Homo sapiens: one gene and its partners. The protein of the gene in region 1 interacts with the protein of each later gene in a pairwise test. Each region holds a gene or a part of one and is shown in the gene's direction. Other genes may lie near its edges.

Region 1 (4,027 bases):
AAGTACAAGGTCGTGTGGAGGAAAGGGGGCCTGCCAAGGAGGTGGCTGAGTGTAGTGAGCAGGACAGTCCCAGGTGAGGTGAGCTCTTAGAGCCGTGGGAGGAGCAGAGCTGAAGGCAGGAGCTCAGTCTGAGGGCAAGGGGCTTCTTCCTTGGGGGCCTGTGGGCACACCCCCTTTGCCCAGTACTGTTCTTGCCAAATCACCCCTTGTTCAAAGCAGGGAAGACTGGGTCTGTAGGGGAGGCCTCCCTAAGAGGCATCTACTGGCATTTTGGTCCTCTCAAGCTGAGGGTGGTCTAGCCTGTGCCAGCCTTAGGGAGCTGGCCCCTTTGCACTGGGGCTGAGCCACATGTCCTTGTAGAGGGTGCAGTTTGGGATGTACGCGCTCTACAGCAAGAATAAGCCTCGCTCCGATGCCCTGATGTCAAGCTATGGGCACACCTTCTTCAAGGTAAGTGAACCTGAGATTAGGAGGAGTAGGGGATGCGGGGAGTGCCCCCAAACCACTCAGTGGCCTCCCATCCGCCCACAGGACAAGCAGCAAGCACTGGGGGACCACCTGGACCTGGCCTCCTACCTGCTAAAGCCCATCCAGCGCATGGGCAAGTACGCACTGCTGCTGCAGGAGCTGGCACGGGCCTGCGGGGGCCCCACGCAGGAGCTCAGTGCGCTGCGGGAGGCCCAGAGCCTTGTGCACTTCCAGCTGCGGCACGGAAACGACCTGCTGGCCATGGACGCCATCCAGGGCTGTGATGTGAGTCATCCCAGGGCAAGGGCAGTGGGTGTGAAGAAGAAGGCAGAAGAGGCTGGCCACCCACCAGCCCCCAACTCTGCAGGTTAACCTCAAGGAACAGGGGCAGCTGGTGCGACAGGATGAGTTTGTGGTGCGCACTGGGCGCCACAAGTCCGTGCGCCGCATCTTCCTTTTTGAGGAGCTGCTGCTCTTCAGCAAGCCTCGCCATGGGCCCACAGGGGTTGACACATTTGCCTACAAGCGCTCCTTCAAGGTAGGCCTGCCCACCCCAGGCCCCACCACTTGTTTTCCCGCCCCATGCCTTACCAAGCCCCTCTCTCCCGCTGGCCACAGATGGCAGACCTTGGTCTCACTGAGTGCTGTGGGAACAGCAACCTGCGCTTCGAGATCTGGTTCCGCCGCCGCAAGGCCAGGGACACCTTTGTGCTGCAGGCCTCCAGCCTGGCTATCAAGCAGGCCTGGACAGCTGACATCTCCCACCTGCTTTGGAGGCAGGCCGTCCACAACAAGGGTGGGTCCATGCCCCTCCTTCACGCCACACTCCCCTCACTGGAGAGCTTACATTGACCCACAGGAGCCCAGAGACCTGGGAAAAGCTCGGGAAGTGGGGAGAAGGCCCAGCGACAGCCACCAGTGCAGGAGAAAGGATTTCAAAGCCAGGCAGCCTTGCTGTCACTGCCTCTGACTTTGGACACAACGTGAACTTCTCTGAATATAAGGGGCATCATGGCTCTCTCTCTCTTTATTTTTGGAGACAGGGTCTCGCTCTGTCGCCCAGGATGGCGTGCAGTGGCATGATCTTTGCTCATTGTAGCCTCTGCCTCCTGAGCTCAAGCATTCTTCCCACCTAAGCCTCCCAAGTAGCTGAGACTACAGGCATGTGCCACCATGCCTAATTTGTAAAATTTTTTCATAGAGGTCTCATTATATTGCCCAGACTGGTCTTGAACTCCTGGGCTCAAACAATCCTCCTACCTCGGCCTCCCAAAGTGTTGGGATTACAGGCGTGAGCCACTGCGCCCAGCCAGGGGCCTCATCTTTAAAAGGGGAATATGGCACCTGCCCCACAGGATTGTTGGGAGGAGAGCACCTGGCACTAGAAAGGCTCAGCTCACAGGACAGTTAATGTGCTGGATGGAGGTGTACAGGAAAGACTTATCTGGGGGGTGGTAGAGGCCCAAGGACAGGCTTATGTCCAGAAGCATCCCACTTATGTCCACTCTCCACCCAGAGGTGCGCATGGCTGAGATGGTGTCCATGGGTGTGGGGAACAAGGCCTTCCGAGACATTGCTCCCAGCGAGGAAGCCATCAACGACCGCACCGTCAACTATGTCCTGAAGTGCCGAGGTAGCAGGCAGGCTACAGGGTGTGGGGGTGGGAGTAGGAAAGCTGTGCGGGAAGCACTGTGGCCCTCCATTAGTGCTGGCCCGCACTTTCCTTGGGATCTGGGGCCAGGCTAGGCTCTGGCCTGTCCCAACCTGACCCTCTCTCTTATGCAGAAGTTCGCTCTCGGGCGTCCATTGCCGTAGCCCCGTTTGACCATGACAGCCTCTACCTGGGGGCCTCGAACTCCCTTCCTGGAGACCCTGCCTCTTGCTCTGTTCTGGGGTCCCTCAACCTGCACCTGTACAGAGACCCAGCTCTTCTGGGTCTCCGCTGTCCCCTGTATCCCAGCTTCCCAGAGGAAGCAGCACTGGAGGCTGAGGCAGAGCTGGGCGGCCAGCCCTCTTTGAGTATGTCTGGGCCTAGCCAGAGGCAGGAGGGCATGGCTTGGGGTCTGGGGCTTCCCGTGCTGACAGTTCACCCAGTCTCCCTCCCTAGCTGCTGAGGACTCAGAGATCTCGTCCCAATGCCCATCAGCCAGTGGCTCCAGTGGCTCTGACAGCAGCTGTGTGTCAGGGCAGGCCCTGGGTAGGGGCCTGGAGGACTTACCCTGTGTGAGTGCCATTTGCCCTATACCCACCAGCCCTTCCCCAGCCCAAGCTGAGCCTGTGACTGTGACCAGCCCCTCCCCAGCCCAGGCTAGGCCTTTACTTTGGGTAGAGCTTGGGGTGGGTGGGCCAGAGCCATTCCCCAGACACCTCCTGGGTCCAGAGTCAGGGAAGCAGGCATTCATGCCTGGCCTGGCCCTGCAGGTCTGAGCCCGGGACTGGACGAGCAGTAGATCCAGCAGCCTGCAGCTCCAAGGAACATTGCCTCTCTGGATCTGCTGTGACCAGGGTGTGGCTGACACCTGGGCTACCTCCAACCTACATGTGCAACGCTGTTGACTACCCTTTCTGATGTGTGTGGCCATTGGACTAACTGGCACGGGGCCTCTCTAGGGAAGTCTGGTTGTAGAGCCTGAATAGGCTCCTGGCCCCATGACCCCTTCTCCTGTCCCCAGCTCCCATCCCAGTTGTGGGTTAAGAATAGGCTAGAGCAGACATTGGGTGTTTCCATGCTGTAGGCTGGTGGGGGACCATGTGCCTCTAGGCAGTGACTAGGGTGCCCCCACCCCTCAGGAAGAACACAGGTGGGCTCCTAGCAGCTGATCCCCAATGCCTGGCCTTAAAGCCGAGCTCAGTTACCATAGGGACAGGTCCACCTCTACTGGGCCCTCATGCTTGCCTTTCCTGGCCCCCAGGCCCAGCCCCTTTTTACTGGGGCAGTTTCGTTATTTTGACTTGATGCCTTTTGAATAACTTTCAATAGAATTGTCTAAAATTATCTTACTGGTTGTTAGGCCTTTGGTGTCTCAGAGAAGGAGTCTAGGTCTTTGATGTGTGATTTAATCTTTTATTTGTTTATAATAAAAAATAGACTGATATGTACCCTCTGATGGGCACATGCATTCTGGGCTATCTCCAATTAAAATGAGACTTGGCGGGTGGGGCATGAGGGGCTGCATCTCTGGGCACCCTAGTCCTCTTGTAGGTACTTTCCCAGGATGGAGTAAGAGACAGACCTAGACAGGCCCCTCTGGATGAGCAGGTCCATGCATCGGCCATATTTCCTGGCGAAGGGCAGTGTAAGCTGGAAGGAAAGGCCAGTCTTATCCCTGATTTCCTGGCCAGTTGTCTACTCTAGCTCCATGTGGGTGGGGTTCTCCCATTGGGGCAGGGACAGGGCAAGCCCGGCTGTTGGGGACTTTTGATGCTCTAGGGCCCAGCTCTGCCCCAGGGCATCTCACAGGGTGGGGCTAGAAATGGCTATCAGGGAACAAAGCAGAAAGACCGGAGGTTCAAAAATCTGTTTCCTGCTACTGGTTTTCTGCTTTTTAGCCATACATGC
Region 2 (4,027 bases), on another chromosome or scaffold:
CAGAAGCAAGAGAAGCTCACTTGGTGACTGTTGAATTCACATAGCTATAAATCTTTACCAGCTACAGCCACTGGAAGGGGCAGAGGAAGAGTAGGAAGGGGAAGTAGTACTACTGTTGTAGTTTTCCCAATGAAGCAAAATATGTAGCAGTATTTTGTTGTTTGAGATAGTATCCAGAGTTTTTTTTTTATATTTAAGAGAATTAAGGAGCGTGGACACAAGGGTGAATTTCAAGTGAAAGTTTAATAAGCAAAAGAAGAACGCTTTCTGCAGCAGACAGTGGGGCCCAAAGGGGTTCCCCACCATGAGGCCGGGGTTCAGGGTTTTTATGGACCGGGATGGGAAGGAATGTGCATAGTTTGCAGGCTGTTTTGAGGAAAGTGTGATTTAGCTTGGTCTGGGACCAATCAGGAGCTGAAGTGATGATTTATTGGGGCTACCTAGCTTGGCCCAGGACCTAGTAGAAGCTGAAGTGAAAGCTTGGCCAAAGACCTTGGCCCTGGGACCAATTAGGAGCTGAAGCAATGATTTATTTAGGCCGAGCTTACGGTTTAAAGCATGTTTAGAAAAGAAAAAAAAAAAAGTGCCCACCAGAACCTACTGGAGCACCCCATGTACATGCCCACATAAGGAGAAGAGACTATTTCCTGGAAGCCTGCTGGTTATACAAAGGACAAAGACATTTCTATGCAGAGTCTTGTTCTCTTATTACCGTGGCTGCAGGCATGTCTTAGGCACAAAGAACAAAGGTTGGGCCTTGTTTCTTTATCTGAGTGGGCCAGAGGTTTGTGCAAGTTTTCTTATCTGTGCCTGCAGCCTGATTTTTCAGGCTGTTTCTCCAATTACAGGAGTTTTACCAAGGGCCCACCCTAACTGCCACCTTTTCTCTCTTATTCTCCCCCTCAGGAGTGGAGACCCTAACTGCTGTTAGGGAGATTAAGCGTTGATTTTTTTTTTTTAGCTACTTTTTGCTGGAGATGGGTGTTGTGTGGGGAACAGCAACTAGGGTTTCTTTTGGGGCTGGCTTAAGGGTCCTTGGAAGAAAGGCATGTTTATGCATGGTTCCTTTTGCATTACCATTTGTAGCTTGATAGCCGTTAGATGAGAAGAAACAATGTGGGTTATTAGAGTACATGTATTAAAATGAAACAAGGATGGAGGTAAAGAAGCTTAAAAATTCCAAGGCTAAGTGATGGCTAGTTATGCGTGTTAAGATTTGGGTTCATGGGGCTTGGCTTCGGTTAGCTTTCTTGGTTTTACTTTTTAAACAAAGAAACTTGTGGGTTATGCGAACTTTATTTACTTTTATTACCTGGCAGGACTTGTGGGATAATTGCCCAGAACTAGAGTATTGTTTTCGATTTCTACATTACCCATTCCCTTTTGTTTCCTTTGAGTGGTAGTTGGAGATTGCTGGTTGATTTACAGAAATAGGGTTAGTTTAAAATGTAGGTAGGCAAGAACTTGAAAACAACTACTGAGACTAGAAATTAATGACAGCTGTATGATAACTTTTGAAACATAATTTTTTCTCCAGTCCTCATTTTTGTTAAAAACAAATTATGATAAGATTGTGTTGTTTGCAAAATAGACTTTAGTCTCATACTTGGCCTGATTATTTACAGAAACTGCAGCAAGAATAATTACCTTTACATAGGCCTTTTAGATGGGCTTTGATGGAACTCTGTTTTACAAGGAATCTTAGATAGGACTTTTTAAAGCTGAGCCCAGCCATGGGTTTGCACCCTTAAATACCTGTGAGTTGGGTAAACTCCTTTTTTTCTGAGGTTTCAAGAGCATGGTGTTCTGGGCCTGTTAGAAAATGACTTTTTTACTCACCACAGATTAAGAACCCTGTACAGGGACTGTGTAGACAAAGTATAAGGCCAATTTTTCCAAGGGGCTTTTTTTGGCTTTTCAAGTTAAGCTTGACTTCTTAAAGGGAAACACATCCTTTTAGTTAAACCCTTGGCAAAACACCAGTTTTTAAATTGTCCTGTTGCAAAAGAAAATGCATTCTTATTGCACTGATGCAAACAATATATTGTTAGAAGTTAAGAATGCTTACATGTAGTGTCTGAATTTTAGAGGAACCAGGCAGAGAGAAACAAACATGTTTTACATTTTGCTTTCAGGAGTATACCTCACTTAATTGTTAAAGGCTGTATCTAGTTTAAAATAAGTTTTCTTGACTGAAAAACAAGGATTAGCAATATTTTAAGCAAAAGTTAAAAAGATTATATTAGCTTTTTATGAGTTCAGTCCATTCAGTTAACTCTTGTTTTGCTTGATATTTATAAACATTTCAGCTTTTTATGAATCCTGTATGCTTTTCCATTATTAGATACCTGCATTTGAAAGCACCTGTTAAAGTTTTACAGCTGAGTTTAAAACATTTTTTGAAGAGGATTAAAACAAGACAATTGTCTTAAATGACAAAATGATCAGGGTGTTTACAGTTAGAAACACAATTGTCAAAGAAATTTGGTTATTTTTGTGGTTTACAACAGTTTAAGATAATTTCAATTATAATTGATAGCATATATTTAAACATTAGAACTTTAGACATCCCATATGGTTTTAGAACATATGTTAATAATATTTACTGAAGGCTGGGCACAGTGGCTCATGCCTGTAATTCCAGCACTTTGGGAAGCTGAGGTAGGCGGATTACAAGGTCAGGAGTTTGAGACCAGCCTGGCCAATATGGTGAAACCCTGTCTCTACTAAAAATACAAAAATTAGCTGAGCATGGTGGTGGGCACCTGTAATTCCAGCTACTCGGGAGGCTGAGGCAGGAGAATCACTTGAATCCGGGAGGCAGAGGTTGCAGTGAGCCAAGATCACGCCACTGCACTCCAGCCTGTGCGACAGAGTGAGACTCCATCTCAAAAAATAATAATAATAATAATAATATTTACTGAAATATAACCTGAAGAAGATTAAACATTACTTTGGCAATTCCATGTATTTAAACATCTTTAATAATTCTGTTTACCTGTTTTCTGGATGCTCTAGGGGCCCGCTGTAGCATCCGAAAGCTAGGTGTTAGGAAAGTCTATTTATTTTGGGAAGCCCATTAAATATGTTATTGGTTTAAAACACTTGATATTATGAAATGGAATTTTAGATTACCATAAGTTATTTATTTTTCTAAAATGATGACTTAAAAATTTGAAAAATCAAAAGCCTTTTATTAGCCTTTAGTATTACACAAAAATCCTGTTCAAGAGAGAAAGCCAAATTTTACCCTTGCATTAGTTTACTATTAATGTTAACCCCAATTTTTAATGAAACCTTGTGGACAATTATATTTAATTTTCACTGGTTTGATCATGAAGTGAGATTTTTACAAACCTTTTATAACCCTTTACAAATTTTACTGAAAAGAAAACCTTGTTGTGCTTTTATTTTAATGCTTAACTTAAAGAAAAATCTATGTAATACTCCTTTGAATTTAGTTAACATGTATATACAGAGTTTTCATGGTAAGATTAATTCATACAGTTTTTCCACAGTTTGCTTAAATCTTCTGCTTTATTTTATTTAAGAAAATTCTTTATCCCTAGGCAAAATGTACATTTCCATGCCTTCTTACAATTTTTTAGTAAAAACACATTTTACTGTTTTCACACGCCTTGCACGTAAATCCATTTTCAGTAGTTGATATGGTTTGTCTGTGTCCCCACCCAAATTTCAACTTGACTTGTATCTCCCAGAATTTCCACATGTTGTGGAAGTGACCCAGGGAGAGGTAACTGAATCATGGGGGCTGGTCTTTCCTGTGCTATTCTCATGATAGTGAATGAGTCTCACGAGATCTGATGGGTTTATCAGGGGTTTCCACTTTTGCTTCTTTCTCATTTTCTCTTGCTGCCACCATGTAAGAAGTGCCTTTCGCCTCCCACCATGATCCTGAGGCCTTCCCAGACATGTGGCACTGTAAGTCCAATTAAACCTCTTTTTCTTCTCAATCTCAGGTATGCCTTTATCAGAAGCATGAAAACAGACTAATACAGTAGACTTA
Region 3 (4,027 bases), on another chromosome or scaffold:
CAGGCACAATCATAGCACACTGCATCCTCAAACTCGCGGGCTCAAGTGATCTGCCTGCCTCTGCCTCTCAAGTAGTTGAGAATACAGGCATGCACCACTGAGGTGGGCTAGTTCATGTAATTTTAAATAGCTATATAGTCTTACCTTATGGTTATGCCATAATTTTATATAACCAAATTCTTATTGGACATTTCCAGTTTTTGATCTAATGCTTTTATATGAAAATCCATGAACATAAATCTTTGACCATTTCTGATTATTTCCTTAGAATAAATCCCTAGGAAGGTAATTATTAAGTTAAAGGGTAGATACCATTTTTCAGGCTTTTGATACCTGTTGCCAAATTATTCCCCAGAAAAGTTGAACAAATCTGTCTCATCAGCAGTAATACAATATTAATAATATTTATTTATGTATTTATTTTTTGAGACGGAGTTTCACTCTTACTGCCCAGGAGTGCAGTGGTGCGATCTCAGCTCACTGCAACCTCCGCCACCCAGGTTCAAGCAGTTCTCCTGCCTCAGCCTCCCGAGTAGCTGGGATTACAGGCACGTGCCACCACGCCCAGCTAATATTTTGTATTTTTAGTAGAGACAGGGTTTCACCATGTTGGCCAGGCTGGTTTCAAACTCCTGACCTCAGGTGATCCCCCACACCTTGGCCTCCCAAAGTGCTGGGATTATAGGTGTGAGCTACCGTGCCCGGCTATAATATTTAATGTATAGTGAATGCCTAAGATGTGCTAGTTTCCATGCTAAGCATTTAGTATACATTGTGTTTAATCCCCTCAAAACTGCTATGAGGAATAACTCTTACTATCCCTATTTTACAGAGAAGAGAACTACAGTAAGATGCAGAGTAACTTGCCCAGCTCTGGGTATTATTGTTCCTTTAAATTTTTGCTGACAAGATCTCTCACCTGGCTTTAAAAACTTAGATATTCTAAAATTTTGACTCTATTCTCTTCAATATTTGTAAATAACTTTGGTTTATTTGGTTATTCTGTACTAGCTGAGAGGAGGAAGACTTGAACTTTGGTTGCCTAGGGTTTTCCTGAGAACTGTATCTTCTGGTTGTGGTTAGTTAATCCCATGTATTTTGCACATGCCAATATCTCCATAATCTAAATTCTTCAGATTTTCTTAAGACTACTATCCACCTTTTAGATTCACTTTTGGTGTTTCCTGACATTCCATTTCAATTGGATACACTTATGCCTGACCTTAAAGGAAAGGGAAAAGAGAAGCTAGTTTTTTCACTCATTGGATAGACATAGCCAGTCTTCTGGCCTCACCAAAACAGCTGAGAGAATGATTGGCCCAAAGCCATTTGGAGAACACTCCATTAACTAGAGGGAGAGAACAAGGAGTATTACTCTCTAAATTGCTGAATTAGGTTTTTCCACTTAATAGATTATGTTAGGAGCAAACAGGTTTTAGGCACAAATATTCTTCTCGATCACTGCCATAACTTAGAAGAAGCCATAAGAATAAGGTTAAGATTTTTAGAGGACTTGTTGAACCAAGCTGTATAATCAGAGTGCAATTCACGGACTTTTTAAGACTTTGTCAAACAAAGTCTGTATGTTATAGTACTACTATAGGGAAAGATTGGTTTTAATAAGTGAAATTAGAATTATACACATTAAAACAAGGCAGTATCACCTAGTTTACTTGCACCACCTTATTTTATTTATGTATTTGCTTTCTAAGTTTCTCTACTTTTATTTCATTTTTGTAAGATCTTTTCAAAAGCCCCACATTTTTTAAACAGTTAAATAACCTTTTCAAGTTATTAGATACATGCCTTATAACAAACACCTTCTATGCTGAAGGTAGCTTTTAATTTTAAAAAGTTTGAGCCGGGTGCGGTGGCTCACGTCTGTAATCCCAGCACTTTGGGAGGCCGAGGCGGGTGGATCACGAGGTCAGGAGATCGAGACCATCCTGGCTAACACGGTGAAACCCTGTCTCTACTAAAAATACAAAAAATTAGCTGGGCATGGTGGCAGACGCCTGTAGTCCCAGCTACTCGGGAGGCTGAGACAGGAGAATGGTGTGAACCCAGGAGGCGGAGCTTGCAGTGAGCTGAGATCCTGCCACTGCACTCCAGCCTGGGCAACAGAGCGAGACTCCATCTCAAAAAAAAAAAAAAAAAAAAGTTTGGCTTTGAGAAATAGCTGAGCTGTTGATTGATTATTAAGTGATATAATAACAAAAATGGTACTAGCGACTGTATTGGGTGGTAAGCTGATAAGTGATTTTTATTTATTTTTATTTTTTGTTTGATAAGTGATTTATAAAAAATTATTATTCAAGCCTTATGTGATGTTAGAATATGTATATTTTAAAAATAATCACCTTGGCTGGGTGCGGTGGCTCACACCTGTAATTCCAGCACTTTGGGAGGCCAAGGCAGGCGGATCACCTGAGGTCAGGAGTTTGAGACCAGCCTGGCCAATGTGGCAAAACCCCATCTCTACTAAAAATACAAAAATTAGCCAGGCGTGGTGGCACACACCTGTAGTCCCAGCTACTTGGGTGGCTGAGGCAGGAGAATCACTTGAACCTGGGAGGCAGAGGTTGCAGTGAGCAGAGATCACACCATTGCACTCCAGCCTGGGTGACAGAGTGAGATTCCGTCTCAAAAAAAATAAATACAATTTAAAAAATAAAATAATCAACTCTATTAAAGCTATATATTTATCAGATGCCCTTTGATGTTTTAATTAGCAGTGATAATTTAATTTTTAAATAGTATCTCACCTGCTTTCAAGAAAGGATTTGAAGTATGTTTGATAGTCACTAGTACAAACCGTTTGTTAAGGTAGGTATCAGAAGCCTTATAGAACCATGGACTACAGTAATTGTGGCAACTATTTGGCATAAAACAATTTCTAAAGTTTAGTGTTACTTTTTATTTTATTTATGTATTTATTTATTTATTTTTTTGAGATGGAGTCTAGCTCTGTCTCCCAGGCTGGAGTGCAGTGGCGCGATCTCGGTTCACTGCAAGCTCTGTCTCTCGGGTTCACGCCATTCTCCTGCCTCAGCCTCCCGAGTAGCTGGGACTATAAGCGCCCACCACCACGCCCAGCTAATGGCTAATTTTTTTTTTTTTTTTGTATTTTTAGTAGAGACGGGGTTTCACCATGTTAGCCAGGATGGTCTCGATCTCCTGACCTCAGGTGATCTGCCCACCTCGGCCTCCTAAAGTGCTGGGATTACAGGCGTGAGCCACCGCCCCAGCCTAGTGTTACATTTTTTTAACTGTATCCCTTGGCTTCCTGACAGCCAGAGGGATAAAGGCATATGCAATCGATTATGTGGTTTTTATTTTCATAAAGTTATTTAGAAACTTCCAGGCAAAAAATCCTAAGAATTTTATGGGTGAGACCTCTAAATAGTGATATCGAGTAACATCATGGACAATATAACAATTTTGTGGGTATTTTTTATATTGACTGATAGTTGAGGCATTTGTAAAGGGAGATAAGCCACTGTGGTCTAAGAATGTTGTTTTCTGGTCTTACTTGATAATGATAAAGTTTTTTGTTTTTTTTTTTTTTGAGACAGAGTCTCGCTCTCTCGCTCTGTCTCCCAGGCTGGAGTGCAATGACTTGATCTCGGTTCACTGCAAGCTCTGCCTCCCAGGTTCACGCCATTCCCCTGCCTCAGCCTCCCGAGTAGCTGGGACTACAGGCGCCCGCCACCACACCTGGCTAATTTTTTTGTATTTTTTAGTAGAGACGGGGTTTCACCGTGTTAGCCAGGATGGTCTCGATCACCTGACCTCGTGATCCGCCCGCCTCGGCCTCCCAAAGTGCTGGGATTACAGGCGTGAGCCACCGTGCCCAGCGATAATGATAAAGTTTTAAAAACATAGCAGAATAGCTTGTCCCTTATACTGTCTGATATCAATTGTCAAACTACATTTGTTCATTTGTTCTCCAACTTTTAATCAAACATCCTGACTCTGGCAAGTGAATGTCTGGAGCACAGATGATACTCTGTGTTCTTGACTGAAA
Region 4 (4,027 bases), on another chromosome or scaffold:
GGATGGTCATAAAAGCCCCTTTAATCTGTAATATAGCTGAACTGTTGCACTGATGGTACAGTGGAATTTAACCACTCTTTGTAATTGTTTCTATGGGGAAATGGTTCAAGCAAGGCTTCCAGGACTCATCTCTCCCATTTCAGCGTTGCAGACCCCTGCAGTGGAAGTCTCTCCTCCCTTGCCCCAGTGTCTATACTCCTGAATGGGCTCTGGGAGGCAGCGGTGAGGGAAAGGGTGCTGGTGTCCAGGGCTCCCTGAGATAGAGTTTAGAAAGGGATGAGAGGAGGACTGTCAGTTGGTACAGGGGAACAAGAAGGGAAGGGCCCAATGCACCAGTAGTGGCAATGAAGAAAGAACAGAGTTTGAGGGAGGCTTCTTGTGGCCGTGCCTCCCAAGGCACTAGGAGTAGAGCATTTCAGTGCAGCAACCCCAGTGCCAGTGCCAGAGCGGTAGGGAACTCGGAATGACATTGCTTATCCAGTGCTGTATCTGTATACTGACGTAACAAGGGACTGCTGGCATTCCTGAGTGACTGGATGATTTACGTGATTAGAGCCTTAGGCTAAAGAGGTTCCTGCAGTGATTTTACTCCTTTTAAGAGCCAGCCAGTTTTCTCAAAGAAAATATTTTTTGTCTTACAGTTATAAATGTGCTTCTTAGTTTCTGTCAGTTGCATGATTCTTACTAAGGATGGTTGCATTGGCATGGATGGATAAGGTCACCATCACTGCAGGAAGAATGCACATCACTCCCTGCTAGAATGGATGCCTTTCCTCTTACTGCTTTTTCTCGTGATCACATATCAGAACTAAGTGCAAGTGCAAGCTTATTTTGTATAAACTACAGAAAGAACCAAGAAGCTTTAATAACCTGTTTAGACAGTTTCTTTGAAATTTGGGGGAAACTAAATATTGCAGTTTTTATCAGTTAAGATCCAATGTTAAAGTTTATACACATGAAAATTAGTGATAAAAATGTACATAGGCCCTTTTTAAATTAAGCTTTATAAAACCGGTGAGCAGAGCAAGTTCACATTTATCTTTAGGGTAGAAAATGATCTTCCAGCTACCCTATCTGTAGTATCTGATTTTAAAAAAATTGACTCTCCCTATCAATCTCATAGGTGTCTGATTTTTTTAAATTAAAATCTCCTTGAGGCCTGGCTTTATAAGCTTCTCTTAACCCTTGAGGTCCTTTAGAATTTATTTGCTTTATGTTTTTCTTGTTCTTCCTCACAGCTAGCCAGGCTTGGTTAGGAAAAAAAGCCTTTTGTCTTCATTGGTTTCTGTCTTCATTTTTTGTGGCTGTTCTTTAACGGTTCTTGGCAGGTAGGGGGTGGGGTGGGGGGCAAAGTGGAGCGATCTCATCCTTCAGCTATTCGACTGGAGGGCCAGTGTTTCCTCTCTGTTTACACATCTGTTAAAGACCCTGTGTGGTCGTCGGCACATACTGAGCCCCCACTTCCTTCAGAGAGCCACAGTGCTGTGTAGGGAGTGGATATTGTTTAGGGTTGGACGATGAAAAACTACTTAGCCCCTGTCTTCTACATGACCCCCTGTGGAGAAGACTGGGTCTAAAGGAGACCAAAACTAGAATTTTCATCAGTGCATTGAAGTGCCTACCTGGTAATTCCAGATCTGCAACATATTAATTTCCAGCATACAAAGGCTGCAAAGGAATGTTTGCCTTTTTTTTACTCACAACCTAGCTTTGGTTTCTGTTTTTTCCATGGACATTGGTGGTCCTGGGCAGGGCAGTCTGTTACCCTGTATTTTAATCTGTTTTGTTTGAATAACAGTCATGGTAATATTTTCCATGTGCCCAAAAGGTGGACGAAAATTACATCATAAAGGGCTGTGAAATACTTTCAGTAAGAATTTGAGCCAGTACAACATTTTCGCCTTTCTGATTTCTTCTTACACTTTCCTTTCAGGCAAATGATGCTTATCTTCAGATGGCCATTGGAAATGCGCCTTGGCCCATCGGTGTCACTATGGTTGGTATCCATGCCAGAACTGGCAGAGAAAAGATTTTTTCCAAGCATGTTGCACATGTTTTAAATGACGAAACTCAGCGGAAATATATTCAGGTAAGCAGTTTGGAGAGCCGGGAATTGCCCTGGAAGTGAATATTCTCTAATTCCCAAAACTCTAAGTCTGGAAAGCAGGCAGAGAATTACAGCAAATAGAACATAGCGTGATAGGATGGAAGTCCCCTCTGGATAAGCACTGACACTGAAGCCACCTTCACTGAATAAAGTAAAAACCTTTCAACTTTCATATATGTTGGAAGACAAGGGTGAAGTATTGTGCTTTAATTACCTTAGCACTGAAATAAAATGATTGCAGTTTGCTTTTTTTTTTTAAGACGTGTATTAGGAAGTAAAAGTTGAGCTCATCAGAGAAATGTGGGAGTTTAGTGAAGAGCAACAAACTTAGAGTATTTTACAATAAATCCTGCTTTGTTGCTTTCAAGGTAAATCTAACATCTACTGGGTTCAAGATGTATGGAGAGTAAAGACTTGGCTTTAATGTACGTAGCACGTAACAACACTTCTTTAGTCATGTGAATAGGTCTAAAGTGCCGATGGTTTGTTTTCTTCAAGTTATACATGCTTCACATAAACTTGTTGGTACTGTTTTTGGGCTAAACTTTTCTCCCTAGTGGGAAGAAAATCGACTATAATGTAGTGTTTGCCAGATTGTCATAAATCCCAGATTGTGTCTGTAAAATGACTTGCTGGATGATAGTTCTAAAACTTGACAGTGATACTCCGGAAGTTTACTTAAAATTTGAAGTTCACTTAAAATGCATAAAGTGCTTTCAGATTTTGTGCCAGAGAACAGTCATTACCATATTCATGAAATATCTTTTTGTTTTTATTTCACTTCCAAGTGCTGAATGTTAATTCGTGTCATGCTTTATGCCTTAGTCACATATAATAGCTTTTTAAAATATGATTTCAATCGGACTCCCTCATGTGAACTGTATACAGAGTTCAAATATACTTCTGGAAATTCAACCACATTTCCATTTTTTAATAACCACCAGTGAGTGTATTAAAGGCAGAAGCTTTTAGCTGAAAAAAAAAAAAGTTGCTTAGCTTTAACAATAGAAAACAGGTTCCAAAGATTAAATTTGCTAATTGTGTTCATCTATATTGTGGCCAAAGGTATAGTGTATAAAAGTTCATATGATTAAATCAATCGTCTGAAAGACATTTCTTATAAACAGTAATGTGATTTTCACCTCCCCGAGGAGTGATTTTTTTTTAAGTATACCTAGCATTTATTCAAGAATTCTGGTTTATTTTGGAAGCTATGTAATGACCTGTCCTTACTCCATTGTTCTTCCTTTTTAACTGTTCTCTTCCCATTAAAAAAAATTCTTCTTTTGCCCCCTAGGTGATTAGAGAAAATTGATGAGCATACTGTATTTGAAATTTAGCTAGGTGTTTGAGGCAGACCCAGTGGTATTCTTGTGGATAGGGCAAATCAGGCTGGACTCATAGCTCATTGACAGAGGGAAGCCATGGAGCATTAAATAATGGACTCGTGTCTCTTAGGGTAGATGCTAGAGATGTATGTCAGGGGTCTTAGGGACCTCAGTGCTGTCCTGTCGAACCTTTTAATGACTGACTTGGATGGCTATACCGAAGGATGGGTTTATCAGGTTTGCAGACAGCAAGAAACTAGAAGGGATGGAGTGTATGTTAAGGTGGAAAAGAAACTGCTATTCTAGAAGTTCTTGACAGACGAGAGAGAAGGGCAGAGTCTAAAAATACAATATTTAGGAAGGAAGGATTACCATAAGAAAATTGGACCCATATACCCTTTTGCTTAAGCTTATAATTTGGGCAGTGGATATAAAAAAGAATTAGAGGCTGAGCATGGTGGCTCACACCTGTAATCCCAACACTTCGAGTGGCTGTGGCGGGAAGATTGCCTGAGGCCAGGAGTTTAAGACTAGCCTGGGCAACATAGCGAGACCCCATTTCTACAAAAAATAGAAACTAGCCAGGCATGGT
Region 5 (4,027 bases), on another chromosome or scaffold:
TCTCACAGTGTAGTTAGTGGATTATTGTTGGTTTGAGGGCCTTCTGGTCATCTATGAAGTTTTGGCATGAAATATACCTACATTACAGTAGAATTTGTAAAACAACAACAACAAAAAAACGAGCATCATTTGGTTGGTAGGCAATCAAAAGTTATACCAGTCTTTGAGTTACCTTTTTGGAAATTGAAGTGCTATAGGAAATGTGATCTTATACTGTTCACTTAGTTTGTGGATTGAAATCAAGTTTTAGTCATGGTTTTTTAAGGTGAATCTTTTTCATGTTTAGCATATTTGCAAAATTTTAGTTAAGTTTTAGTAAATTTCATAGGAGTGACAGACATAAGTGCATAGCTAAGCTCATTCCAGCTCTAGATATTCGGAAGAAAAGCAGTGGCACGGTAACTCCTTCTGTAATTGTCTTTGGTATTACTGCAATAGCAAACACTTTTAGATAGATATTAAATAGGCAGAAATACTTTATAAAGCAACCGTTGAGCTTCATTCTGTATCAAATGTTTAATGTAATGGAATATAAATGTAATTACAACCCTTTGTGCTTGATCCTGAACTTCGCCTGACCTCACAGTTTTAACATGAAGCATTCTTTTATTCATGCTTGGGCAGGTAGTGCTCCCAGCTCAACAATTATAAGTCTTTTCCTTTGATTTCCTTGATTGGTATCAGTCTTGTCTCTGGGTTTGAATAAAGAGCAATTCAAAACACTCTGTAAACGAGGCCTGCCTTTCTCATTGTGTGTGCATGTGTGTGTGGGGCACCTTATGGATGAAACTAGGATAGGGACCCCATGGAACTTCTCATGCTTTGTAAGTTGTAAATAAGTTCTCTCCTGTTTTTATCTCCAGTAACCTGACTTATTGCAAGGCTCAGTAAAGATTTCTTCCTGATACACCAGAGCTGTGCCATGTCTGTTGGAAAGCATTTCTAAAAACCCTGTTAAGGCCAGGCGCCGTGGCTTATGCCTGTAATCCCAGCACTTTGGGAGGCTGAGGCGGGCAGATATCTTGCTACGAGATCAGCCTGGTCAACATGGGGAAACCCCGTTTCTACTGAAAATACAAAAATTAGCTGGGTGGTGATGGTGCATGCCTGTAATCCCAGCTACTACTCAGGAGGCTGAGGCACAAGAATCTCTTGAACCTGAGAGGTGGAGTTTCAGTGAGCTGAGATTGCGCCACTGCACTCCAGCCTGGGCAACAGAATAAGACTGTCTCAAAAACAAACAAACAAACAAAAAACAACAAACCAAGAAAAGCCCCTGTTAATTGGGGTCTGCTATCTGCTAATGTGGCATTTATCTGGGTCACAGGCTCAAGCCTTTAAAGAGTGGTTAGGATATAAATGATAAGTGAAATTGTAACTTTAGCAACTTCCCTTATCATTATAAAGTGGGAGGCAACAGAGACTTCTCTGTGTTTTGAATGTGTGTTTAATGATTCTTCTGTGATTTAAGTACAAAACGCAAACCAATCTTTGCATCACATTCTGAAGGTTAACCCTGTCTTATCCAGCAAGTTACAGGCTTAGTCGTTCAATAAAATAGGTAAATGTAAGTTCCGTTAGGTTTTAAAAATGTCATAACTTTTTTTTGTCTTCTGAGTGGGGATTTATGTTATTACTGATTATTTCACTAACTGGTAATAGGGATGGGATTGACTATTAGAATACTGTTAACTTCTCACTCCACTAAACAAATGATAGAGAAAAATGTGAATGTTGTTACATGAATAATTTAATATTGCTTTTGAATTAAAGTTTTAAGGACCATAAAGTCAGGATCTGTCGATGTATGTTTTCTAAATTGTTTTTGATATTGAGTAGAATAAAAATATTAGTAAATGTTTGGGAAAAAAACTCAAACTTTTTTCCCTCTGTTCTCATACCACAACAGTCATCAACACAGATGATTTCTGTAACCAAACCTATGGGGGTTTCTCCTCACCACCAAGCGAGCAATCATTTCTGCAGTGGACACCAACTGGGTGTCCTTTAGTTCATTTCCTACACTGTTTGACTGGATATAGTGTCAGATCCCAGAGATAGAGGGCTTAGTCCTCGAAGCTGCCCCTTTCCCACCCTGTTCAGACACCAGTCACGAGTTTGGGCCTCCGGAACTTAAAACTTGACTGGCTTCAAGTTGGGGTTCTCATGGCTCCCCCTCTTTGGGTTTGGTTAATTTGCTAGAGCAGCTCACAGAACTCAGGAAAATACTTATTTTACTAGTTTATTATAAAGGATATTGCAGAGGATACAGATGAAGAGATGCATAGGGCAAGGTATTGGGGAAGGGATGCCAAGCTTCCATGAGTTCAGTGTTCAGCTAGCTATTTGGAAACTCTCTGAACCCAATCCTCTTGGGTTTTTATGGAATCTTCATTCCTTCAGGGTATATGGGGTGGGACCCTCTCTGGAATGAGAGTCTTATGACCCACATCACAAAGGTGGGGGTTAGACACTTGCCTTCAGGTAGGGTGAAAGGAAGAGAGCAGGAGAAGGTTGGAGAGAGTCTGTTTCCTGAGGCCTAAAGCACCCAACACTATAACGAGACTGCAACAAGGCTAGGGGAGTTATTAGCCAAGGAACTGTGGACAGATACACACACACACACACACACACACACACACACACACATACACACACACACACACACACACACACACAAAATAACACAGCAAATCATCCACGGGATCTAAAGAAGCATGATACAGTAAATGCCTATATACCTACCATCTAACTTATTAAAAAGAACATTACCAGGAAAACAAGTGAAAACAGAAGGCTCCTTTTTCTTTGTCCCTCATCCAAGAGGTATTCCATATCCTGAATTTTGTGTTTATCATTCATTTGCATTTCCATGTTTGATTTCTTAAAAAATGTATTTTTAATGTTTTTGAAATTTTTTTTACCAACAAAATGATTACATGTATTCTTTTACAACATGCGTTTTTTTGTTTGTCATTATGTTCCTGAGATTTATCCATGTTTCATTGTAGCTCTGGTTCATTTTCATTGTTTTCACTGCTATGTGATATTCCAATAAATTAATATATCATAACTTTTACATTCTTCTGTCAATGGAAATTTGGGTTGTTACGGTTTTTCTATTATAAATAGTCCTCCTCTAGACATTCTTGTGCCTGATTCTTGGTGCCTGTTTGTAAAAATTTCTCTTGGGTATACCCCTAAGGAGTAAATTTTTTGGGTCATAGGATATGTGTTTAGCTTTACTTTGATGATACCAGATTGTTTTCCAAAGTGGTTGTACTTCAAAATAAATAATTGGGACATAATTAAAGTAAAAAGCTTCTGCACAGCAAAAATAATAATAATAATCACAGTAAACAGACAACCTGTAGGGAGAAAATATTTGCAAACTATGCATCTGACAAAGGACTAATACCCAGAATCTACAAGGAACTCAAACAAATCAGCAAGAAAAAAAAATCAAATAATCTCATCAAAAAGTGGGCAAATGACCTAAATAGAATTTTCTCAAAAGAAGATATGGCCAACAAACATATGAAAAAATGCTCAATGTCACTAATCATCAGGGAAATGCAAATTAAAACCACAATGAGATACCACCTTACTCCAGCCAGAATGGCCATTACTAAAAAGTCAAAGAACAATAGATGTTGGCATGGATGTGATGAAAAGGGAATACTTAAACACTGCTGGTGGGAATGTAATTTAGTACAACCACTGTAGAAACCACTGGGTATCTATCCAAAGGAAGAGAAGTCATTATATAAAAAGACACCTGTATATGTATGTTTATCGCAGCACATTTCACAATTGCAAAGATAGGGAACCAACCTAAGTGTCAGCTGATGAGTGGATAAAGCAAATTTGATATATATACATCATGAAATACTCCCCAGCCATTAAAAAAAGAATGAAATAATATCTTTTGCAGCAACGTGGAAGGAACCAGAGGCTGTTATTCTAAGTGAAGTAACTCTGGAATGGAAAACCAAGTACCAGGTCGTCTCGCTTACAAGTAGGAGCT
Region 6 (4,027 bases), on another chromosome or scaffold:
TTACAGAATGCTTGATCTTTTGTACTCCTAACCAGTGTAACCTGTGGCCACTCTTTTTCAACATATCCTTAGGTGTTTGTGTTACTAAGGTACTCATCACCAAACACTTTACCAAGTCAAATGTGCCATTTATTAGGTTTTTGAAATTTTTAGTATTCCCTGCACTTCTTAAATCTCTTTTTCTTTGCCGCTTACCATTTCCATGACCTTGGGCACATTACTGAAACTTTCCAAGCCTTAGTTTCTTCATTCATAAAATAGAGATAGTAAGACTCATTTCACAGATTTGTGAGGATTGCATGAGGTATCTGCAAAGGTGCTTTCTAAACTATAATTTATCGTACAGTTGTAAGGAGGTATGGTGAAGGTGTTCGTCAGAGGCCAGTTTGGTTGTGACTTTGATAGAGTTGTGTTTAAATAATCTTGGTTAGGGTGGGGCATGGTGGCTCACGCCTGTAATCCCAACGCTTTGAGAGGCCAAGGTGGGCAGATCACCTGAGGTTAGGAGTTCAAGACCATCTTGGCCAACATTGGTGAAACCCTGTCTCTACTAAAAATACAAAAATTAGCTGGGCGTAGTGGCATGCGCCTGTAATCCCAGCTACTCAAGATGCTGAGGCAAGAGAATCGCTTGAACCCGGAGGCGGAGATTGCAGTGAGCCAAGATTGCACCACTGCACTTCAGCCTGGAAGACAGAGCGAGAATCCATCTTAATAATAATAATAATAAATAATCTTGGTTAGACTTCAAGCCACACTGTGGCATTCTTTTACATTGAGTTAAGTGTAAACTACCTGGGACTGTGTTTAAATGGAGTATATAAACCGAAGGCATCCCCAGCTGGAGTTACCTGGATTAACTTTTTGCTGCAACTACTGGGGTCAACAGAAAGGGGTGACATTTCTCTTACAAGGAGCCCATGCCTAGATGTGGCTTCTTTCCTGTCTACTCAGAATAGGCTATGTGTGTCAGACCTAAGTCTTTTCCTACAAGTTGAGATTTTTTTTTTTCCTACAGGGTGTGAGAGTTGGGCTTTTGGCTGTGTATAGTTGGGGAGAATTATAGCTGTGGTGGTATGTGGCTTGGTTTACTTGGCGACTTCTCTTCCTAGGCTGCAGATCCTTCTAGGCCCTGACCTTCTTCTTTTTAGCTGCTTTTTTCAAGGTAAAGTAAGTAGTTAGTAGCACATGCTGGCCCAGGAGTCAGGTAGACCTGGATTTGAGCCCAGACCTCACTGCCTGCTCATGATCTCAGTAGGCTTCAGTTCCCTCATCTGTAAATGGGACTAACAAAAATACCCACCTCATAGGATTATTAATGGGCATTAGATAAGAAAATGGGTATATATTAAAATTTAGCATAGGGTCTGGTGAGTATTCAATATTTATGAATATTATGAATATGTATGAATATGGCTAGTGAGTAGCCAATATTTATATGTATTTATTTGTGAATTTATGTATCTCCTCTGGAGAGAGCATAACTAGTAAACATGGAAAAGCTTCAAAGCCTTAAATTTACCCATCATTGTTTATTGCTCCTGGTCTGTGGATTCTCTGCCTTCTCTCAGTGGTAACCCAAAGTACCTTTCACTTCTTGCTTTGCTGTTTCATTCTTTTCTTTTTTTCTTTTTTTTTTTTTTTGGAGATGGAGTCTTGCTCTATCACCCAGGCTGGAGTGCAGTGGCACAATTATGGCTCACTGTAACCTCTGCCTTCCGGGTTCAAGTGATTCTCCTGCCTCAGCCTCCTGAGTAGCTGGGATTACAGGTGTGCACCACCACACCTGGCTAATTTTTGTATTTTTAGTAGAGATGAGGTTTCACTATGTTGGTCAGGCTGGTCTTGAACTCCTGACCTCAGGTGATCTGCCTGTCTCAGCCTCCCAAAGTTCTGGGATTACAGGCATGAGCTACCATGCCCAGCCTTCTCTTTCATTCTTGTGGGTGGTTCTCACCAACCTTGTTTTGTCCTCAGACTCTTCCCCTTTTCTAGGTGAAACCAACCCCTTCCTCCACGAAAGCCTCTTTCCTCAGGACAGAGCTGACTTTTAAATTGGTTGGTTGAATTTGGGGTTTTGTGGGCTAGGTATCCTTAAAATCATTTCTAGCAGCCTCAAAATGGTCTGCCTTGAATCTCATGTCTTTATGTCATGGGGAATGACAGCCTTTTCTCCCTTCTTTCTTCTTCATTGTGTTGGAAAGTGTCCTCCCAGTTTCTATTGGCAAGTCTTCATTTGAGTAAATTCCAATCTTAATCTACTTCAAATATATATTGAATCATTATCTGCTTCAAAAATATAATGAAAACTGGTCAGGCATGGTGGCTCATACTTGTAATCCCAGCACTTTGGGAGGCCGAGGAGGGCAGATCACCTGAGGTCAAGAATTTGAGACCAGCCTGATTAGCTGGGCATGGTGGTGCGTGCCTGTAGTCCCAGCTACTCAGGAGGCTGAGGCAAGAGAATCGCCTGAACCGAGGAGGTGGAGGTTGCAGTGAGCCTAGATCGCACCACTGCACTCCAGCCTGGGTGACAGAGCAAGGCTCCTTTTCAAAACAAACAAAAATATATATATATATAAAACGAAAACCTTCAAATGCATAAAAAGCGTATGAAGAAAAATACAACACACACCCTGGTACCCACCCCTCAGCTGGTTAACGGCCTTCATTTTTCTCAGAAGTCAGCACCTGTTAGAACCTGACAGGCAGCCTGGCCCGTCTCTCCCTGTAGTGTGTTCATCCGGTCCTGGTGTGCGTGTGTGTCACCCTGTGTTAGGCCACCAGCTTCAAGTCAGCTCTTTGACCTGAGTTAAAATTCAACTTCTTGATTTGATGATTGATTAAAGAATTCTCAGAACATCCAGTATTTATGCAATCTTAATGTACACGTGGCCTCTAAGGAGGAAAAACAGTAATAACCACATACTCCTGGGTGTTATATTAGATGACAGATCTTTCTTACACAGCTGCATGTTTGTTCTCGACAGCGAATCCCCTGAGGTGGTACTGCAGGTGGTAGATCAGGTCCCCTTTTACAAAGGAGAAGCAGCCATGGTGGATGAGTCCAGAACGTGCAGCCTCAGTTTTATTTTCTTTGATTTGGGTACTTGTCTCCTATAGTTCTTTTTTTTTTTTTTTTTGAGACGGAGTGTCACTCACACTGTCATCCAGGCTGGAGTCAGTGGTGTGATCTTGGCTCACTGCAACTTCCACCTCCCAGGTTTAAGCAATTCTCCTCCCTCAGCCTCCCGAGTAGCTGGGATTATAGGCATGCGCCACCATGCCTGGCTAATTTTTGTATTTTTTTAGTAGAGATGGGGTTTCACCATGTTGGCCAGGCTGATCTCAAACTCCTGACCTCAAGTGATCCATCTGCCTCCACCTCCCAAAGTGCTGGGATTACGGGCGTGAGCCACTGTGCCTGGCCACTCAAATAGTCTTGTTTTAAGAACAAATATTATCATTTCTATAAATAGAAAACAACATTTGTTATAAATAAGAAGAACTTCTGGGCGTGGTGGCTCATGCCTGTAATCCCAGCAATTTGGGAGGCTCAGGTGAGAGGATCACTTGAGGCCAGGAGTTTGAGACTAGCGAGAGCAACATAATGAGACCCTTATCTCTCAAAAAAAAAAAAGCTAGACATGGTGGTGTGCGCCTATAGTCCCAGCTACTCAGGAAGCTGAGGTGGAAGGATTGCTTGAGCCTAGGAGTTCAAGACTGCAGTAAGCCAAGATTTCTCTACTGCACTCCATCACTCCACCCTGGGTGACAGAGCAAGGCCCTGACTCTTAAAAGAAAAGAACCATATAAATACTCAGTGAAAAACCAAACAATCTTATTAAATCCAGAGGCAGATCTTGTTGCTAGCAAATATATTGATTCTGAGGCTGCCGTCACTTTGGCACCTAGTTAGAAAATGGTCTTAAAGACAGAGTAGCACCAAACTTCAACTTTCTTCTCAAGGCCAGCAGAAGAACTTTTAACAGAATAAAAAATGGAACAACTTTTTTATTTTGGGACT
Region 7 (3,984 bases), on another chromosome or scaffold:
TCGCCACCACTGCCGGGCCTGCGGCTATGTGAGTACTCCTGCCAGCACTCCTGCCTCCACCTGCGTCACCCAGGCCTCCACCTGCATCACCCAGGCCTCCACCTTTCCTACCTAGGCCTCCGCTTGATCCACCTAGGCCTCCACCTGCCCCACCTCGGCCTCCATCTGTGTCACCTCCACCTGTCCCTCCGAGGCCTCCACCTGTGTCACCCAGGCCTCTATCTTTCCTACCTAGGCTTCCACTTGATCCACCTAGGCTTCCACTTGATCCACCTAGGCCTCCACCTGCCCCACCTTGGCCTCTACCTGTCCCACCTCGGCCTCCACCTGCCCCACCTTGGCTTCCACCAGTGTCACCCAGGCCTCTACCTGTCCCACTTAGGCCTCTACCTGCCCTACCTGGGCCTCTACCCACCCAGCTCAGGTGCTGCTGTCCCCATCTTGGCCAAATCTGCTGGCTTCAACCAATGCAGCCCAGTGGTGTTGGGCACTAGCTCTGAGCCAGGTGTGTGTATTACTACCTCATCTGGCCCTCACAGCACACCTCAGGAGGCTGCTGTTTCCCATTTTTTAGATGGGAAAATGAGACCCATTGAGGTTAAATTACTTGCTGAAGGTACCCCTGAAGCTGATCCTATGAATTTACCTGCATTCTTATCATCATTTTCCACGACCCTGAGACCCAGAGCTAGGAAATGGTCCCCAGTTCTAGTGGAGGGGCATCTAGCCCCGCACCCCCTCAGGCCTTGCCCCACCACCTCACCAGGCCCATGCCCACTATGCACTCACCCACCCCGTCATCCTCTCTTTACCCGCTTCGGCTAACTGTCCTCTCTTCTCTGCAAGCCCTCAGCACCCTGGCACCTGATGGATTCTGTTGTTAACTCTGCCTACTGGTTCAGGCCTCAGTCTCCTTAACTCCGCCATGGGGATCGTGAAACCTACCTCCAGTGTGGCAGTGAGGATTCCACCAAAAAACATTCTTTCCCTTCCCTCTCCTCTTTTTCTTTCCCCCTCCTCCATAACTCAGGCAGGGCATCCAGTGCGGGTGAGCTACCAGCTTCTTGAGGAGGGTACTGTGTCCACTACAGTTTCTCCTCTTATCAATCCAGGCCCAGTTACCAGAGGTAGATCTCGCTTTGCTTTTTAAGCACTCCTGTACTTGAGCTGTTCTCTGTTGACATCACAACCCCCTCTGTTTACTCTGCAAACAGAGAAGCCCTTTGCAACCTCAGTCTTTGATGACCTCCAGAGGACAGGAGGAGTCTAGCTGGACAGGTTGGGGCCAGTCAGGGAGGTGTCCCCAAAATGTGTTCAACTGCAATCAGGACAGAGTCAGTTTCTAGGACCTGGGAACACACCTGCCTTCAGATGTCAGTGATGAGTTACATCCCGAAGCCAGGTAGAAAGGATGTGGGGATTGGCTACTGTTCCTGGTGATTCACTTCTGTAAATAAGAGTTGAATTGATTCACACTTGTGAGTGAAAGTAGTTCTTTAAAAATTACTTAAAATAGTGAAATACAAAGAGGCACAAAGAATAACAACACCTGTGTAGCTGCCTTCCAGCTTAAGATAGAAAATATTCTGACAACTAAATTAAATGTATGATCCTTGCTTGGATTCTTTCTGGGGTAAAATAAAGCTATCAAGGTTGCTCTTGGGACCATTGGGAGAAATTTGATGATGCAACATATCTAGATAATAATATTGTATTGGCTGGGTGCAGTGCCTCACACCTGTAATCCCAGCACTTTGGGAGGCCGAGGTGAGCGGATCACCTGAGGCCAGGAGTTCGAGAACAGCCTGGCCAACATGGTGAAACCCTGTCTCTACTAAAAATACAAAATTAGCCGGGTGTGGTGGTGTACACCTGTAATCCCAGCTACTCGGGAGGCTGAGGAGGGAGAATCGCTTGAACCCAGGAGGTGGAGGTTGCAGTGAGCCCAGATCACCCCACTGTACTCCAGCCCAGGCAACAAAAGCAAAACTCCATCTCAAAAAAATAAAAATAATAATATTGTATCAATAAATTTCCTGAGCGTGACTGTGACACCGTGGATAGGTAGAAGGATGCCCTTGTTCTTAGGAGACCACCAGCTACATATTTAAGGGTGAGGTGTCATGATGACTGTAATTTATCCTCAAATGGTTCAGAAAAAAATAAAATACATACATATAGAGAGAGACAGAGAGCAAATGTGGCACAAATGTTAATAATTAGTGAATCTAGTGGGTGGTATCATTGTATTATTTGTTCAATTTGTCTGTCGGTAGGAAATTTTTCAAAATTAAACGTTGGTAGAGGAAAAAATATTTACTAATTATATTTAAACATTGAAATCGCTCAATAAAAAAAAAATGCTCCTGAGGTAGCTGAAGCCCCCGTGTGGGGCTGTGCCCTGACCGTGGGTTTCTCTTGCCTGTGCAGATCTTCGTGCCTGCTGAGCCAGTGAGTCATCCTTTCGGTGGTTCGGGTGCCAGTTTCTGTCTCCCCTGCCTGCCAGACGGGAATCCTTGTGAGGGTGGGGCAGGGCCAGGCCTTCTTCTCCAGGTCCCTGCCAGGCCACACTCTGTGCTGGGCACACAGAGGAGCTCCCTGAAGGCTGGTGCCGCCTGATGAACTACACTCCCTCTGCCCCTTTCTCCTGCCCTCCATCTCCACGCCCACATCTGGGCTCCCCATAAAGCCAAGTCTTCCTCGCAGTCACACCTTGCGGCACCCAGTGTTCCTCTCTGAGTCTTCCCAGGCCCCTTTTACCCAGCCTCCCGGCATGATCCATGTCAGCCTTTGGGGGGTGTCTTCGTGGTGAGCTGAGAGTGGGCCCCGCTCCACAGAGTACCCATGTAAAAACAACCAGCCTATCATTTTTAGGTGAAAACACACTTGACTCCATGATGGCGCAGAATACAAAGTCTGCCTGAATCTTAAAGCTAAACTGTGGGACTTGAAAGACACACCCTGTGTGTGGAGGGCCTGTCTGCCAGGTAACAGTGTGGCTCTCAGGGTCAGGAGAGGACAAAAGCTGGGCCCTGCTTGCCTGGTGGGGTCTTTGGGAGAGTCAGGTGAGATGGCGGAGAGGACAGCATTTGGAAAAGTGAATCAGATGCCAGTGGCCCGTCTGGGGCAAGCCCCTTGGGTTCACAGCAGCCCTCACTCGGAGGGAACCTGGAGGGGAGAGAAGTTACGGCCCTCGCGGTGGGGGCCGGGTCTTGAACCCTCAGCCTAAGAGCCCCGAGCCCGAGCTCCCCCATGTGTCGCAGCCTCCAGGCAGTTGGGCCTCACCAGCATGGGGGAGCATCCCCGCTCTGCCTCTATTCCTCCCTCGAAGCTTTCTTTTCCTCCCCCAGTCCCTGGTTGCTCTCATGCCCCCACCTGCCCACCAAGGCAGGAGCCCAGCCCTCCGGTGCCTGGTCTCAGCCCCATGCCCCCTTATGTGTCCTCCTCAGGTGGTGTGTGCCAGGTGCTCCGACTACCGGGCCGAACTGAAATACGACGACAACAGGCCCAACCGAGTCTGCCTCCACTGCTACGCATTCCTCACTGGAAATGTGCTGCCTGAGGCCAAGGAGGACAAGAGGCGGGGCATCCTGGAGGTGAGGGCCACTGTCCCCGCGCTCACCATCCGTCCTCTGTTCAGGGAATGTGTGCCCGGCAACCATGCTGGGCTGACACTGTCCAGTGCTGAGGAACAAGCCAGCCATGGTCACACCCTCCCCCCTCTCCCTCTTCCTCTCTCTGCCCACAGACCCCAGGCCTCTCGCCACAGCCCAGGCAGTGTGGAGCCTGTCACCAAATGGAGGCACCCTTTGGCTGCAGGCTGTCGTCCACATTCTTCTGCACTTCCTCTATGTCCCCATCCGATAGTACGGCCCCTCTGGACAGCTCATGTTCACGTCCCCATGTCCTGCCCCGACAGTCCCAGGGTGCCAAGAGCTGGTGTCACCGCTTCCATTTTACAGATGGGAACACTGACGCTCCAGG

Evidence for each region.
Region 2: the proteins of PLEKHG4 (region 1) and TENT5D interact in binary tests that used the Homo sapiens proteins (3 or more experiments, as listed by UniProt).
Region 3: the proteins of PLEKHG4 (region 1) and PRPS1 interact in binary tests that used the Homo sapiens proteins (3 or more experiments, as listed by UniProt).
Region 4: the proteins of PLEKHG4 (region 1) and PRPF18 interact in binary tests that used the Homo sapiens proteins (3 or more experiments, as listed by UniProt).
Region 5: the proteins of PLEKHG4 (region 1) and METAP1 interact in binary tests that used the Homo sapiens proteins (3 or more experiments, as listed by UniProt).
Region 6: the proteins of PLEKHG4 (region 1) and TBC1D22B interact in binary tests that used the Homo sapiens proteins (3 or more experiments, as listed by UniProt).
Region 7: the proteins of PLEKHG4 (region 1) and FGD2 interact in binary tests that used the Homo sapiens proteins (3 or more experiments, as listed by UniProt).

The regions. Positions count from the first base shown.
Region 1 is NC_000016.10:67,285,914-67,289,940, forward strand, and holds the end of PLEKHG4 (puratrophin-1), read left to right. Parts: intron 1-360; coding exon 361-450; intron 451-531; coding exon 532-753; intron 754-835; coding exon 836-1,006; intron 1,007-1,086; coding exon 1,087-1,264; intron 1,265-1,984; coding exon 1,985-2,101; intron 2,102-2,253; coding exon 2,254-2,487; intron 2,488-2,562; coding exon of another isoform or gene 2,563-2,575; coding exon 2,576-2,691; intron 2,692-2,889; coding exon 2,890-2,895; 3' UTR 2,896-3,567; downstream 3,568-4,027. Other genes in the region: BTB/POZ domain-containing protein KCTD19, read right to left, coding at 3,656-3,769. UniProt on the Homo sapiens protein: Possible role in intracellular signaling and cytoskeleton dynamics at the Golgi.
Region 2 is NC_000023.11:80,423,137-80,427,163, forward strand, and holds part of TENT5D (terminal nucleotidyltransferase 5D), read left to right. Parts: intron 1-4,027. UniProt on the Homo sapiens protein: Catalyzes the transfer of one adenosine molecule from an ATP to an mRNA poly(A) tail bearing a 3'-OH terminal group.
Region 3 is NC_000023.11:107,631,282-107,635,308, forward strand, and holds part of PRPS1 (ribose-phosphate pyrophosphokinase 1), read left to right. Parts: intron 1-4,027. UniProt on the Homo sapiens protein: Catalyzes the synthesis of phosphoribosylpyrophosphate (PRPP) that is essential for nucleotide synthesis.
Region 4 is NC_000010.11:13,614,465-13,618,491, forward strand, and holds part of PRPF18 (pre-mRNA-splicing factor 18), read left to right. Parts: intron 1-1,933; coding exon 1,934-2,089; intron 2,090-2,475; coding exon of another isoform or gene 2,476-2,517; exon of another isoform or gene 2,518-2,532; intron 2,533-4,027.
Region 5 is NC_000004.12:99,001,835-99,005,861, forward strand, and holds part of METAP1 (methionine aminopeptidase 1), read left to right. Parts: intron 1-4,027. UniProt on the Homo sapiens protein: Cotranslationally removes the N-terminal methionine from nascent proteins. The N-terminal methionine is often cleaved when the second residue in the primary sequence is small and uncharged (Met-Ala-, Cys, Gly, Pro, Ser, Thr, or Val).
Region 6 is NC_000006.12:37,274,338-37,278,364, forward strand, and holds part of TBC1D22B (TBC1 domain family member 22B), read left to right. Parts: intron 1-4,027. UniProt on the Homo sapiens protein: May act as a GTPase-activating protein for Rab family protein(s).
Region 7 is NC_000006.12:37,022,343-37,026,326, forward strand, and holds part of FGD2 (FYVE, RhoGEF and PH domain-containing protein 2), read left to right. Parts: coding exon 1-28; intron 29-3,449; coding exon 3,450-3,596; intron 3,597-3,748; coding exon of another isoform or gene 3,749-3,983; intron 3,984-3,984. UniProt on the Homo sapiens protein: Activates CDC42, a member of the Ras-like family of Rho- and Rac proteins, by exchanging bound GDP for free GTP. Activates JNK1 via CDC42 but not RAC1.